2 linked regions of the Homo sapiens genome follow. The protein of the gene in region 2 purifies or fractionates together with the protein of the main gene of each other region. This does not show direct contact. Each region holds a gene or a part of one and is shown on either strand. Other genes may lie near its edges.

Region 1 (2,493 bases), on a different chromosome or scaffold from region 2:
GGTTCCAGACACGGCACAAGAAATGCCTTCCTTGGCAGTTCAGCACCTTTTCTACAAATCTTTATTCTCTGTGAGCATGACACCCTACCGTTTTTTCAACCGGTTGTCGTTAAATCCTAAAAAATAAGTTGTTCTACCTTTCTGTTCTACAGACCCACAGATGCAGGGCAGTCAGCGGTGGCAGTGTTTGAACCATCAATTGGGAGGGGAAGGTGGTTTCCTGTGCAGGAGGGGCAGGTCAGATTGCAGGATAGTTGTGCTCAGGCGCAGGTGGGCAGGCACGCTAAACACATTGGTTTTCCCCCTCAGACCATTCCCGGAGTAATAAATCCAGTTGGAGCAGCAGTGATGAGAAGAGGGGATCGACACGTTCCGATCACAACACCAGTACCAGCACGAAGAGCCTCCTCCCGAAAGAGTCTCGGCTGGACACCTTCTGGGACTAGCAGTGAATCGGGACACAAACCACCCACCCCATTGGGAGAAAAACCCAGACGCCAGGAAAAGAAGAAACAACAAAGGCAGGAGAACAGCCACTTTCAGACTTGAAAATGACAAAACCCTCAGTTGAGCCTGAGCCCCCGGCGCGGGGGCTGCTACACTACAGGACACCCAGCATCGGCTTTGACTGCAGACTGTTCACCCACACGAGCCCTGTGCTTTTGGTGTAAATAATGTACAATTTGTGGATGTCATTGAATCTAGAGGACTTTCCCCTTTTTATATTTGTATTAACTTTAACTTATTAAAAAAAAAAAAAGAAAAAGAAAAACGATTTAAAAAAAAAAAAAAAAGCAACCAACCCCAACAACAAAAAAGAATGTTTTGGTATTGGAGAAGGGATGGTCAGTTAGCCTGTCTGTCACACGACGGAATGGATACTGGGCCCGGGGACCACTTTCATACTCACGTCCTCATCCTTGGATACCCAGGGGAGGGCGAACCGTTTTCGCTCGTGTGTCTGTACGCAGCATGTTGGGATCGGGAGTTTCGGCACAGACTATCCCATCAAGCCGTTGGCTCCTTTCAGCTACTACGTTACCACGTTCCTAAAACGCAAGCTCTCCGGACCAGACGGACACAGGGAGAAGCTAGTTTCTTTCATGTGATTGAAATGATGACTCTACTCCTAAAAGGGAAAAAACAATATCCTTGTTTACAGAAGAGAAACAAACAAGCCCCACTCAGCTCAGTCACAGGAGAGAACACAGAAAGTCTTAGGATCATGAACTCTGAAAAAAAGAGAAACCTTATCTTTGCTTTGTGGTTCCTTTAAACACACTCACACACACTTGGTCAGAGATGCTGTGCTTCTTGGAAGCAAGGACTCAAAGGCAAGGTGCACGCAGAGGACGTTTGAGTCTGGGATGAAGCATGTACGTATTATTTATATGATGGAATTTCACGTTTTTATGTAAGCATGAAACACAGGCAGTATGAGAGAAAGCAAGGCCCGTCATGCTGTCCGTACACTACGTATGCTGTAGAGCCATTTTGTATGTTGTGTAAAACAAAAAGCATTGATGAAAAAGCAAAAGGTGATGTATGTATATGAGAAAATTAATTGTACGATATCATTCCAGTACGTTTTGTTGTACATTTTAGTCTTGTTTACTTTCTCTTCATTGTTAAGAGGATGCGAACTGTACAGTTTCCAGCTAGTTACCCATATTAGAGAAGAAATAAGAGAGTATTAGAAGAAAACAGGAGAGAAAGAACATTTGTGAATTGCAGTTGTCAAAAAAAAAAAATAGCCTAGCTGGCCTTATTTGTGAAGCATAATTGCTTTTAGCATATGGAAGTATTTTTTCACATTTTCTTTGTATAAAATTTGTATTAAACTTAAATATCTTTTTGATGGTGGTGTTTCTTTGTGACTGAGCCAGTAGACTCACACTATATGCTTTTTTGGGTTTGCCCGTTCCTTCCCCCACCCCCCCAGTTTTTTCAGATTTCTTTACCTTTTTTTAATTAAACTGTTTTGGAAAAATGCCGTGGTCGTCCTCGAATTTGCAGTTTTCCATTTGGTCGGGATGGCTGTGTCAGGTTTGCACGACCAAACACAGAAGGGGCCGTGAGAGGTCATGAACACCCCCCACAGCCAGGTGGTGGGCACACTGGAGAGAATGGGCCCTAGTGGGTGCCCCCCACGCCAGTCCTCGTCAAACAGTTGGGAGAGGACGGAGTTGTCTTCTTGAAGCCCGTAGGGAGGCCGAGCTAACAGGCCTCGCGTGGGCAGCAAGGATCCCAGCCCCTCGCAGGTGCCCTGGTCCATGGCTCTGGGCCTGGCTGGAGGTGCACAGGGTATGAGTAGAATGAAGCCGGCTTGAAAGGCTGAGGTTTGGTTTCCTGGGCAGCAGTGTTCCTTCTCTGCAATCCAGTAACTCCCCAGAAAAGATCTCCACAAACCCCTTCCTGTGCCAAGGGCCAAGACATGACATGGCCGGCAGGGGAGGTTGGCCCGCGTGGGCATAAGTTCATTCCTGCCAATCA
Region 2 (3,500 bases):
CCTCCGCCTCGGGCACCTCTTGTGCCGCAGCCGAAACCCTGACTTTCTCCTCCACATCATCCAGCGGCAGGTGAGTGCCGAGGCTCCAGGAGGTAGAGATGGTGGTCTTGGGAGGCCCGGAACCTTCCGGAGGCCTTGGTGGCCAGAAGAGGGCAGGACACACCTGGATGCGGGGCCCATGAGCTGGCTGCTGCGTGTCGCCCTTTCCGGCTCCGCGGTCACCCGGGGGGCTGGCGGCAGGTGTTGGGCCTGGAAGGTGCTGAGCGGGCGCCACTGTCGCCTGCCCAGGCCTCCTCGCAGTCCATGCCCTGGCTGGCGGACCTGGTACAGTCCAGCGAGGGCTCCCTGGACGTGCTGCCCGTGCAGTGTCTGTGCGAGTTCCTGCTGCACGATGCTGTGGACGATGCTGCTTCCGGGGAGGAGGACGACGAGGGCGAGAGCAAGGAGCAGAAGGCCAAGAAGCGGCAGGTCAGGGCCGCCCACCCCTCAGCCCCCCCGCCTCTCACCCCGCACCCCTGTCAGGGCAACCCATGCCTGAGCCCACCAGCCGCGCACCCCACGTCCTACCCGCCTGGCCTGTCACCTGCACCCCTGAGAGCCCCTTCCTCCCTGCAGAGGCAACAGAAGCAGCGGCAGCTGCTGGGCCGCCTGCAGGACCTGCTACTGGGCCCGAAGGCTGATGAGCAGACCACGTGTGAGGTGCTGGACTACTTCTTGCGGCGCCTCGGCTCCTCCCAGGTGGCCTCCCGCGTGCTGGCCATGAAGGTGAGGTGGTGGGCGGGTCTTTCTGCGCACGCTCTTCATGTTTAAAATGAGTAGGCTGGGGACCGGGCACGGTGGCTCACGCCTGTCATCCCAGCACTTTGGGAGGCCAAGGCAGGCAGATTACCTGAGGTCAGGAGTTGGAGACCAGCCTGGCCAACATGGTGAAATCCCGTCTCTATTAAAAATAGAAAAAATTAGCTGGGCGTGGTGGAGGGGGCCTGTAATCCCAGGTACTCTGGAGGCTGAGGCAGGAGACTCGCTTGTACCTAGGAGGCGGAGGTTGAGGTGAGCCAAGATTGTGCCACTGTACTCCAGCCTGGGCAACAAGTGAAACTCCATCTCAAAAAAAAAAAAATAAATAAATGAAAAATAAAGAAGTAAAATGAGTAGGCCTGGGGCAGTGGCTTGCTCTTGTCATCCCAGCACTTTGGGAGGCCGAGGTGGGAGCATCACTTGAGTCCAGGAGTTTGAGACCAGCCTGGGCAACACAGGAAGATCCTCTCTCTACAAAAACTGAAAAAATTAGCCAGGTGTGGTAGTGTGTGCCTGTGTTCCCAGCTACTTGGGAAGCTGAGGCAGGAGGATCACTTGAGCCCAGGAGTTTGAGACCAGCCTGGGCAACATAATGATACCCATCTCTACAAAAAATAAAAGATGAGAAAAATGAGCTGGGTGTGGCAGCATGCACCTGTGGTCCAAGCCACTTGGGAGGCTGAGATGGGAGAATCACTTGAGGCTGTAGTGAGCTGTGATCACACCACTGCACTCCAGCCTAGGCAACAGAATGAGACCCTGTCTTAAAAAGGAAAAGTAAAAATCAAATGAGTGTTCAGTGCACTCTGACTGTATTTTAAGTTCCTTCCCTGCGTAGGAAGGATGCGCTAGTGAAACGTGAAGGTGGACCCTGCCGCCTGCCTGGTGTTCCTTTCTTGCTGGTGACGGGAGGGTCCAGAGTGGCTTCAGGAACTTGAACAGAAGCATTTAACAGAAAGAGCTCAGTCTCGTTTTTCCCTTTTACCTGCGGCCTCTCCCGTGGGAAGCAAGCGCCACATTCTCCTCGGGGCTCTGAGGGCACCATGCGTGTGCTCCCGGGGCCAGGGTGAGACCCTGCCTGCACTGCCGAAAGCCGGCCCAGCTCATGAGTGTCTGCCACAGGGTTTGTCGCTGGTGCTTTCGGAGGGCAGCCTGCGGGACGGGGAGGAGAAGGAGCCCCCCATGGAGGAGGATGTGGGGGACACAGATGTGCTGCAGGGCTATCAGTGGCTGCTGCGGGACCTGCCTCGCCTGCCTCTGTTCGACAGCGTCAGGAGCACCACAGCCCTGGCCCTGCAGCAGGTGAGGGCGCTGACCGGGGCCGCGGCAGGGAAAGATGAGAGGGCCGCAGCCCTGCCCTGTTGCCGCTCAGACCACCCTCCCCTCCAGGCAATCCACATGGAGACTGATCCCCAGACCATCAGCGCCTACCTGATCTACTTGTCCCAGCACACGCCTGTGGAGGAGCAGGCCCAGCACAGCGACCTGGCCCTGGTGAGGCAGCAGGGTCAGCCAGCAGTGTGGCCCTGGGGAGGGGACGGGGCCAGCCGGCAGTGTGGCCCTGGGGAGGGGACGGGGCCAGCCGGCAGTGTGGCCCTGGGGAGGGGACGGGGCCAGCCGGCAGTGTGGCCCTGGGGAGGGGACGGGGTCAGCACAGAGACCCTGCCCTGGGGAGGGTAAGGGGCCAGTGGTGCAGTGCCCTGGGCTGGCGGCTTCTTGGGCCACAGGGAGGCATTGAGGGTGGGAGGGCCGTCACGGCTGCTGTGCTGGGGCTTCTATGACCCCGTGGCCACCTGTGTCCCTTCCTTAGTCACCACTCACTCCCTGGAGCCTTTCTCCCCAGACCCTGAGGATGCGAAGCCACGGGGGTGAGGGTGCCTTGTTCACAGCAGGGTGGAATCTGAGCCATCAGCCTTCTCCCCGACGCCAGGAGGGTTTGGGCTGTGGGCCCAGGTCGCTGGGCACCTGCCCGCTGTCCTCAGCATCTCTAGCTCACATGTGTGGCGCTGACTCCCATCTTCTCTCCTGGGTGCTGTCCTTCTCTGCTGGGCTGCTTCTCACTTTGCATCACGGTTCTCTTGTCCACAACCTGCGCTGTGACCTAGTGAAAGTTGGTGGCCCGAGTCCTCAGGGAATGAGCGATAGGTGAACAGATGGTGGCTGCCGGGCAGAGGGCAGCAGCGTCCGCTTTCAGGGCCTGGTCATTGTCCCTGGCTGTGAGAGTCGTGTCCTCCCTCCCCCCTGGAGAGTCCGACCCAGCTCTGGTCGTCTTCCCTGGCGGCCTGCGGCTGAGTGAGGGTCTGCGGTGCCGCGGGCCCTGCTTAAGATCCCAGTGAGAGCGTGCCTGCGACGAGGTCACCCCAGCTGGCCGGAGAGCAGAGCTGTCTCGGAGCCTCTGACGCCCCCCTGTCCACACACCAGGACGTGGCCCGGCTGGTCGTGGAGCGCTCCACCATCATGTCCCACCTCTTCTCGAAGCTCTCCCCGAGTGCCGCGTCGGACGCCGTGCTGAGCGCTCTGTTGTCCATCTTCTCACGCTACGTGAGGCGCATGCGGCAGAGCAAGGAGGGCGAGGAGGTCTACAGCTGGGTGAGGGCGAGGAGGTCTACGGCCGGGTGAGGGCGAGGAGGTCTACGGCTGGGTGAGGCTGCACGGCACGCTCGGTGCCAGCTGGGTACCCTCGGCGCTGGCTCAGGGTCCCT

Evidence for each region. Proteins that work in one complex are often made in the same cells at the same time.
Region 1: the proteins of INTS1 (region 2) and ZMYND8 purify together in Homo sapiens (affinity purification with mass spectrometry, with the first as the bait; one study listed by BioGRID). This does not show direct contact.

What each region holds. Positions count from the first base shown.
Region 1 is NC_000020.11:47,208,714-47,211,206, reverse strand, and holds the end of ZMYND8 (MYND-type zinc finger-containing chromatin reader ZMYND8), read left to right. Parts: intron 1-309; coding exon 310-446; 3' UTR 447-1,993; downstream 1,994-2,493. UniProt on the Homo sapiens protein: Chromatin reader that recognizes dual histone modifications such as histone H3.1 dimethylated at 'Lys-36' and histone H4 acetylated at 'Lys-16' (H3.1K36me2-H4K16ac) and histone H3 methylated at 'Lys-4' and histone H4 acetylated at 'Lys-14' (H3K4me1-H3K14ac).
Region 2 is NC_000007.14:1,483,890-1,487,389, reverse strand, and holds part of INTS1 (integrator complex subunit 1), read left to right. Parts: coding exon 1-70; intron 71-288; coding exon 289-468; intron 469-615; coding exon 616-765; intron 766-1,920; coding exon 1,921-2,100; intron 2,101-2,187; coding exon 2,188-2,292; intron 2,293-3,219; coding exon 3,220-3,387; intron 3,388-3,500. UniProt on the Homo sapiens protein: Component of the integrator complex, a multiprotein complex that terminates RNA polymerase II (Pol II) transcription in the promoter-proximal region of genes.